Homo sapiens: one gene and its partner. The protein of the gene in region 1 interacts with the protein of each later gene in a pairwise test. Each region holds a gene or a part of one and is shown on either strand. Other genes may lie near its edges.

Region 1 (3,500 bases):
GGTCCTGTGGGACCACTAGATGTCTATGCCCAATAAAGTCTGTACTAGAAACGCAGATTTAATAGTCACAGCACCATAAGCAGAGTGCATGGTTCCTTAGAAGAAAGTTTAGCAAATAATAAGCCCTATGGTTTCCTTAGTGGGAGACAAACAGCCTTCAGAATATACAAAAATCCCTGCCTTTTTGGAGCTTTATTTTAGCAGAGAGGGGAACAAGGGGCACATGGGCAATATAAAATAGTAAAATGTATGGTATATTAAATGGTGAAAGAAGTTCTGTGGAGACAGATTAAGCAAGGAAGTGGGACTGAGTATCAAAATCAATTTTTAGAAGGTTTGTTAAAGCTGATTAGCGGCCCCATACCCAGAGTTTCTGATTAAGTAAATTGGGAGTGGGACTAGAGAATTTGCAAGTTCCCATGTGATGCTGATGTTGCTGGTCTTTTTTTTTTTTTTTTTTCTGGTGATGAAGTCTCGCCCTGTCACCCAGACTGGAGTGCAGTGGCATGATCTCGGCTCGCTGCAATCTCTGCCTCCTGGGTTCAAGCGTTTCTCCTGCCTCAGCCTCTTGAGTAGCTGGGACTACAGGTATGTGCCACCATGCCCGGCTAATTTTTTGTATTTTTAGTAGAGATGAGGTTTCACTGTGTTAGCCAGGATGATCTCGATCTCCTGACTTCGTGATCCGCCCACCTCAGCCTTCCAAATGCTGGGATTACAGATGTGAGCCACCACACCCAGCCAACACATTTTTAAAATCACTAGGATAGAGAGTTGCCAAAGGGGTATGATGTTGCACTTTTAAAGAAGATGGTTAAAATGGGCCTAAGATGGTGACATGAGAGTAGACTCAAAGGAAGTGAGGGAGTTGGTTGTGTGACTATCTGGAGGAAGAGTTGATGCAAAAGCCCCTGGAATGTGCCTGGCATGTTTAAGGGACGGGGCAGAGTGCATCTGCAGAAGGTTGAAGCCAGAGAGGTATGGGGTCTGGATTGTAGAGGACAGTCCATCAGTCATCCATAGGATTTGGATGTGTTCAGCATAGAGGTACTATTTCAAGCCTTAAGATTGAATGAGATTGTCAAAGAAAGAGCAAAGCAATCTCATGATTTAAGGCAAAGTGTGATAATCAGCTAAGACACTGAGAACTGGGAAGCCTGGATGATTCTGAGACATTTTGAAGCAAGGAACAATAGAACTTAGAGCAGAAAGCAAATGACTCAGGGAAAAACATCAAAGGTGATACCAGGTTTTATAACCTAGGAGAGAAGAATGATTGAAATTGGGATAAAAGGGAGACGAGGAGTAATTAGGAAGAGGATTTGATTTCTGAAAATCAATTATAAGCAGTAGTTCCCTGTTTATCCTGTTGCCTTGTGCCAGGTGCAGTGGCTCACACCTGTAGTCCCACAGCTTTGGGAGGCCAAGCCAGGAGGATATCTTGAGGTCAGGACTTTGAGACCAGCCTGGGTAACAGAGTGAGATCCCATCTCTTAAAAAAAAAAAAAATAGCCAGGCATGGTGATGTGCCTGTAGTCCTAGCTACTTGGGAGACTGAGGTGGGAGGATTGCTTGAACCCAGGAATTTAAAGCTTCAATGAACCATGATCTCGCCAGTGCACTGCAGCCTGGGCGACAGAGCAAGACTTGTCAAATAAATAAGTAAATAGCAGTTTGGTCTTTTGTTGGAGGAACGTCTATTCTTAGCTTGGACACTGCGGTTTTTCCTTGGGCAGCAGAAGCAATGTGGCGATTGAAGAAGTGACCTAAAACTTTGATGTTAGGTAGAAGCAGATGGCCCAAGCCAAGACAAGTGCTTGTAAATCCACTGGTGGGAGCCCCTCCTCCTAACAGCAGGTTATTAACGCTGCCAGAAAAAAAGTGTCCCCTCTACCGGTCTGGTGAAGAAACCTCATCGCTACGGGCCTGGGACTGTGGCACTTCTAGAGATTCTCGTTACCAGAAATTGACCTAGCTTCTCATCTGGAAGCTGCCTTTCTAGAGGTTGGTGAGAGAGATCACCCAGGATTTCAAAACCAACTTTAGGTTTCAGAGCACAGTCATTGGGGTGCTGCAGGAGGCTAGTGAAGTGTACCTGGAGGCTAGTGAAGTGTACCTGGTGGGTTGGTTTGAAGATGCTAATTTGTGTGCCATCTACGGTAAGAGAGTTGGCTCTCATGCCCAAAGACATCCAGTTGGCTCGCCAGACACGGAGTGAGCGAGCTTAAGTGAAGGCAGATTTTAAGGCATTTTATATGAATTCTGTAAAATACTTTGGTTTAATTTGTGACTTTTTGGGGAGAAATTATTTATAATATGTTGCATTTGTGCTTAAGTCATTCCGTCTTTTGGGATGAATGTGAAAAGTGACTGTTCATAGACCTCAGTGACGTAAGCACTGTTGCTCAGGAGTGACAAGTTGCTAATACGCAGAAGGGATGGGTGACATTTTTTCATTCTCATGACGCATGTTTCTGTAAGTTAATGACTTGTTAGGTAGCTATTAAGGAACTAGAGTTGATAAATAAATGTGTATAGGTTCCTTTTGCAATATAACTGGTTATTACTTGATCCAAGTGTTTAACATTTGGAGCTAAGTCTGACCATACATTACTGTGATAGAATGTGGGCCTTTTCAAGGGTGAAGATACAAGCCTTAACCACAGTATAACTTGCAGTTTCCTTAAACAAACAAAGAAATAAAAACCTAGCATGGAGTACATTATGTGCATTTATAATAGCTATTTTAAATATTGTAGTGTCAACATTCAAAAATTAATTCTTTTACATTCGCAAATGGTGGGGAGTCTTGTCATTAAGGTGTGTATAACTTAGAATCCACTTGGTTTTCTCCTAACTGGACTGCATTTGTTTTCATAGTAGTAAAATGTTATGTGTATTACACCTTGCATAAGTCCTCATTCTACTACGTGTTAACTAACCCTCTAGATGATAATGCAGATGCTAACTGTGGGATTTTATTTATAAGAACTCTAGAATAAATACCAGTTATTCCTACCAACATCGGCTGTTACTAATATTCTGAAGTAGTTAGTGCAACTTTTCATTGTGTTGTGGTTGGTCTCCTAAGTAGGTTGGATTTTTCTCCTCTTCTAAGAGAAAACAATAGTGAAATTATTTTCTTTCTCTTTTCTCTCTGTTTCTGTCTCTTTCTCTCTCTCTTTCTCCCTTCCCTTCCCTTCCCTCCCCTCCCCTCCCCTCTTCTTTTCTTTTCTTTCTCTTCTCTTCTCTTTTCTTTCTTTCATGGGGTCCCTTGCTCAACCTGTTGCCCAGGCTGGAGTGCAATGACATGATCATGGCTCAGTGCAGCCTCAACTTCCTGGACTCAAGCAATCCACCTGCATCAGCCTCCAAAATGGCACATGCTACCATGCCCAGCTATTTTATTTTTACTTTTAGTACAGATGTGGTCTTGCTATGTTGCCCAGGCTGGTCTTGAGCCATTGAGCTCAAGTGATCCTCCTGCTTTGGCCTCCTAA
Region 2 (3,500 bases), on another chromosome or scaffold:
TAGACAAAATTGTCCTAATTCATCCACCCCAATTCTTACTTTAGAAAAGTAGTTCAAGAAATCCATTCGTTTCTGTCTCCCTCTCTACCATACCCGCCCCACCATCTGTCTCTTGCACATGTGCACACACATGCATGCATGCATACACACACACACACACACACACACACACACACACACACACACACACAGAGGTTGGGAGGCATTCTATAGCAAACTGCATACTTTAGCTCTCTTTTGAGATGCAGTGTACAAGTATGCTACTGATGCTGCTGTTTCTCCTGCTCAACTCTGAGCCAAAGCTTATAGACACCTTTTCTCAGCTAATGTTTCAAATCCTTAAACAGCATTGTATGAGAACTTCAGTGTTCATGTAACAGAAGTCTAACAGCTCCTACCTCCTAGGTATCTAAAAACATTAGGAGGCATTGATGATGATTCTTAGTTACAAGATGCTAAAGCACGTGCCATTTTGTATAAGTTTAAGAAATTTTGTACCAAAGTTATTTAATTTATAACGCTACTAACCAATATGTCTCAATAGCCAAAATATACTATTACCAACTATGTTACGGTAACAGTATGTATACTATATATCATCTTAAAATACATATATGTAAAAATGTTTATACCTATTTAAATTAAATTATACAACCTTTATGAGTAAACAGTAAAATTAATCAAAGGTAATAACATGTAAATAGAGAAAGTCTACAAGGATTTTTTTTTAACTGCTGAAGTCACTTGTTAGGGTGTTGTTTATACTTACATTACCAAAAATGCCTTTACATACAAGCCAATAATATCCTTAGCCCTAAATGCTGTTAGATGTTGCTACACCTTACCTACAAATAGCAGTTAGCAGAATTAACTGAGGAAACGGAAGGATGGGGATGCCAAGGGACCAGAAGACAGGACTAGGAAGAGAGAATGGGTGGCTCTACAGAAAGATAAATTCTAAACTAATTTAAGAGAACTTAATGACCGACCATTCAACGATGACTTCCACTTCCACAATAATTTCCTTTGCTTTCACTGGAAAAATACTTGCCTATTGGCACTATAGGAGGAGTCCATTATGGTTCCAACCTGAGCTGGAAGTGATGAAGTGTAGGAAACTAAGGCTGGTGAGAACTCTTGAGGGGAGGTAAGATATTCAGGTGATGCCTGTTGTTGAGACGGCTGATGTTGAGCTAGCATCTGCTGTTGAAAGAAAGCCTGCTGATACTGCGGCATCTGAAAAAAGAAATGATATTATACAAAACAATGCTCCAGTCCTAAAGCACTGTCAGCACTGCATCTATTTACTATGTTCCTTCCTTTCACATTGGTGACAAAATCAGAAACGTAAAAAACAATCATCTACAGAAGCAGCTCTATTACTAGAAAACTACAGCAAGATGAAATAAATCTTTTTAAAAAGTTGTAAAGGTAGGCTCACTTGGCCAGAATCAAAAATCCTCTTTTAAGTATTTTAAGAAAAAGAGTAGCTTAAAGTCACTAATATAGTGGTTGCTGTTAAAAAAAAAAAAAAAAAAAAAAAAAAGGTCAAATTATTCTCTGAAGAAAATATACTCTCCCTTTGGGTTTCATTTTTTTACTCAATAGATATGTGCTGAATGAAAGAGACATGTGACGAAAGACTATAGGTAAGACATCATTTCCCTTATATAATGACATAAGAGAAGTACGTTATCGGTCAATTACTATGTGCCATATTCAGGTGCCATAGTTCAGTGCAATTTAAAGCTGCTTGAGAATATATGACTGGCTTTGATAAAATACATGTCAATTAACTTACTTGATTTTGAATTACTAAATTCTGAATAATATGATTCATACTGTGAATTCCAACACCATAATGTATACTCAGAGAAATCTCTAGAAATTATTTAAGTTACCATTGTAGGATACTGTGATGCAGAAGGTTGTGGTTGATATACCGAATGCATTAAAAATTGTTGTTGAAGCATCTGTTGCTGCTGTGTTGCATGTTGATACTACAACGAGAAAATCAAATTAATAAATGTTATGCCTTTTTTGTGTCAGAGCCCTTTTTTAAAGTATTGATCTTACCATAATGATTTGAGAAATCAGTAGTCCAAACATCAATACAAAATAGCTATACTCTAAATTACTATAATTTATTAATAAATATGCTTATCAGAACTGGTTTCAAAATTATCAACAATTAGATTCAATTAAAACCATTTTTAGCACAATTTAAGGATGTTTAGAAGAAAGCTACCAAAACACATTTACTACCTTTTCCTAGAAGATAAAGACACCTGAGTGACTTCTAACCAAGCCCCATTACACTAAATCTCCCCTTCAGTGGTGTCTTCTGGGCATCCCATGGTACCACCTACTTACTACCCTCCACTCTGGATCTATCAACCAAAACCAGGAGGGTGACAAAAATCTAAGACAATGTTACTTCTGAAAAGCCTAATATCACCTTTCCAACAATAGCATTATTAGTCTGTGAACTCAAAACGTAACCTCAGATAATATTCATTATAAACTGCAGTGCTTATTTGTGAATACTAAATGTTTCAGATGAACATTCTTTTCTTCATAAGGCCACAATGCAACCTATTTTACAGTATTCTTAAGTATTTCACTGATTGCAAATTAAATACGTATTCTTTCATAATTAGAAAATTGGGGAAAGTGTTTACTCAAATCTAGAGTTCAAGGTGCCCATGATACAAAAAGGAATTCACTGATATTCAATTTGCTGCATCAATTTCACACTACTTCCATATCTAAAGAAACAAAAAAATTACCTGCTGCATATAAGCATCTTGAAGTAGGTGGTGGTGGTGGTGGTGGTGGTGCTGCTGCTGCTGCTGCTGCTGCTGCTGTTGCTGTTGCTGCTGCTGCTGTTGCTGTTGCTGCTGCTGCTGCTGCTGCTGCTGGTGAGGATGACGATGCTGTAAATGGAGTTGCTGTAATCTCCAATCTCCCTGCTGTAGTTGCTGGAGTACTCTATGCTGCTGTGGCGGCTGCTGAGGAGGTCCCTGACCCAATAAAATTTCAGGGCCATTTCCAGGTCTTAGTGCCCCTAAAGACAGGTCCAAACACTTACATTAACATACTAATGATTTCAATTAAAAAGCTGGATTTCAACATGCTCATTTCAATAATAATTTAACTAAGGCATTTATATCCTTATTTATAACACAAAAACTTCCATATGCATAGAGTTTATAGGGATTTACTTTAATTGTAAGTACCGAAGAAGCTTAATTTTGTCGTCTACAACTCTGAACAAGTCAACATCTTAGAAACACTTCATGTTTCATACTTCGGCTCTCCATGAACACAACATCCATGTTAGTTTGTTCTACACTGCTCAACAATATCATGTACTATCATGAGTATGTATTAGTACCAATATAATTCTCTGTCTAGAATGCCACTTTCCACCTAGTGAAATTCTTATTCTTTAAAGTTTAGCTCAAACCTCTCTTCCTTATTCCTTCATCTAGCACTTC

The links.
Region 2: the proteins of TRAPPC6B (region 1) and BMP2K interact in a two-hybrid assay, tested with the Homo sapiens proteins (one large-scale study listed by IntAct).

Annotation. Positions count from the first base shown.
Region 1 is NC_000014.9:39,160,334-39,163,833, reverse strand, and holds part of TRAPPC6B (trafficking protein particle complex subunit 6B), read left to right. Parts: intron 1-3,500. UniProt on the Homo sapiens protein: Component of a transport protein particle (TRAPP) complex that may function in specific stages of inter-organelle traffic.
Region 2 is NC_000004.12:78,870,350-78,873,849, reverse strand, and holds part of BMP2K (BMP-2-inducible protein kinase), read right to left. Parts: intron 3,068-3,500; coding exon 2,790-3,067; intron 2,001-2,789; coding exon 1,902-2,000; intron 1,237-1,901; coding exon 1,052-1,236; intron 1-1,051. UniProt on the Homo sapiens protein: May be involved in osteoblast differentiation.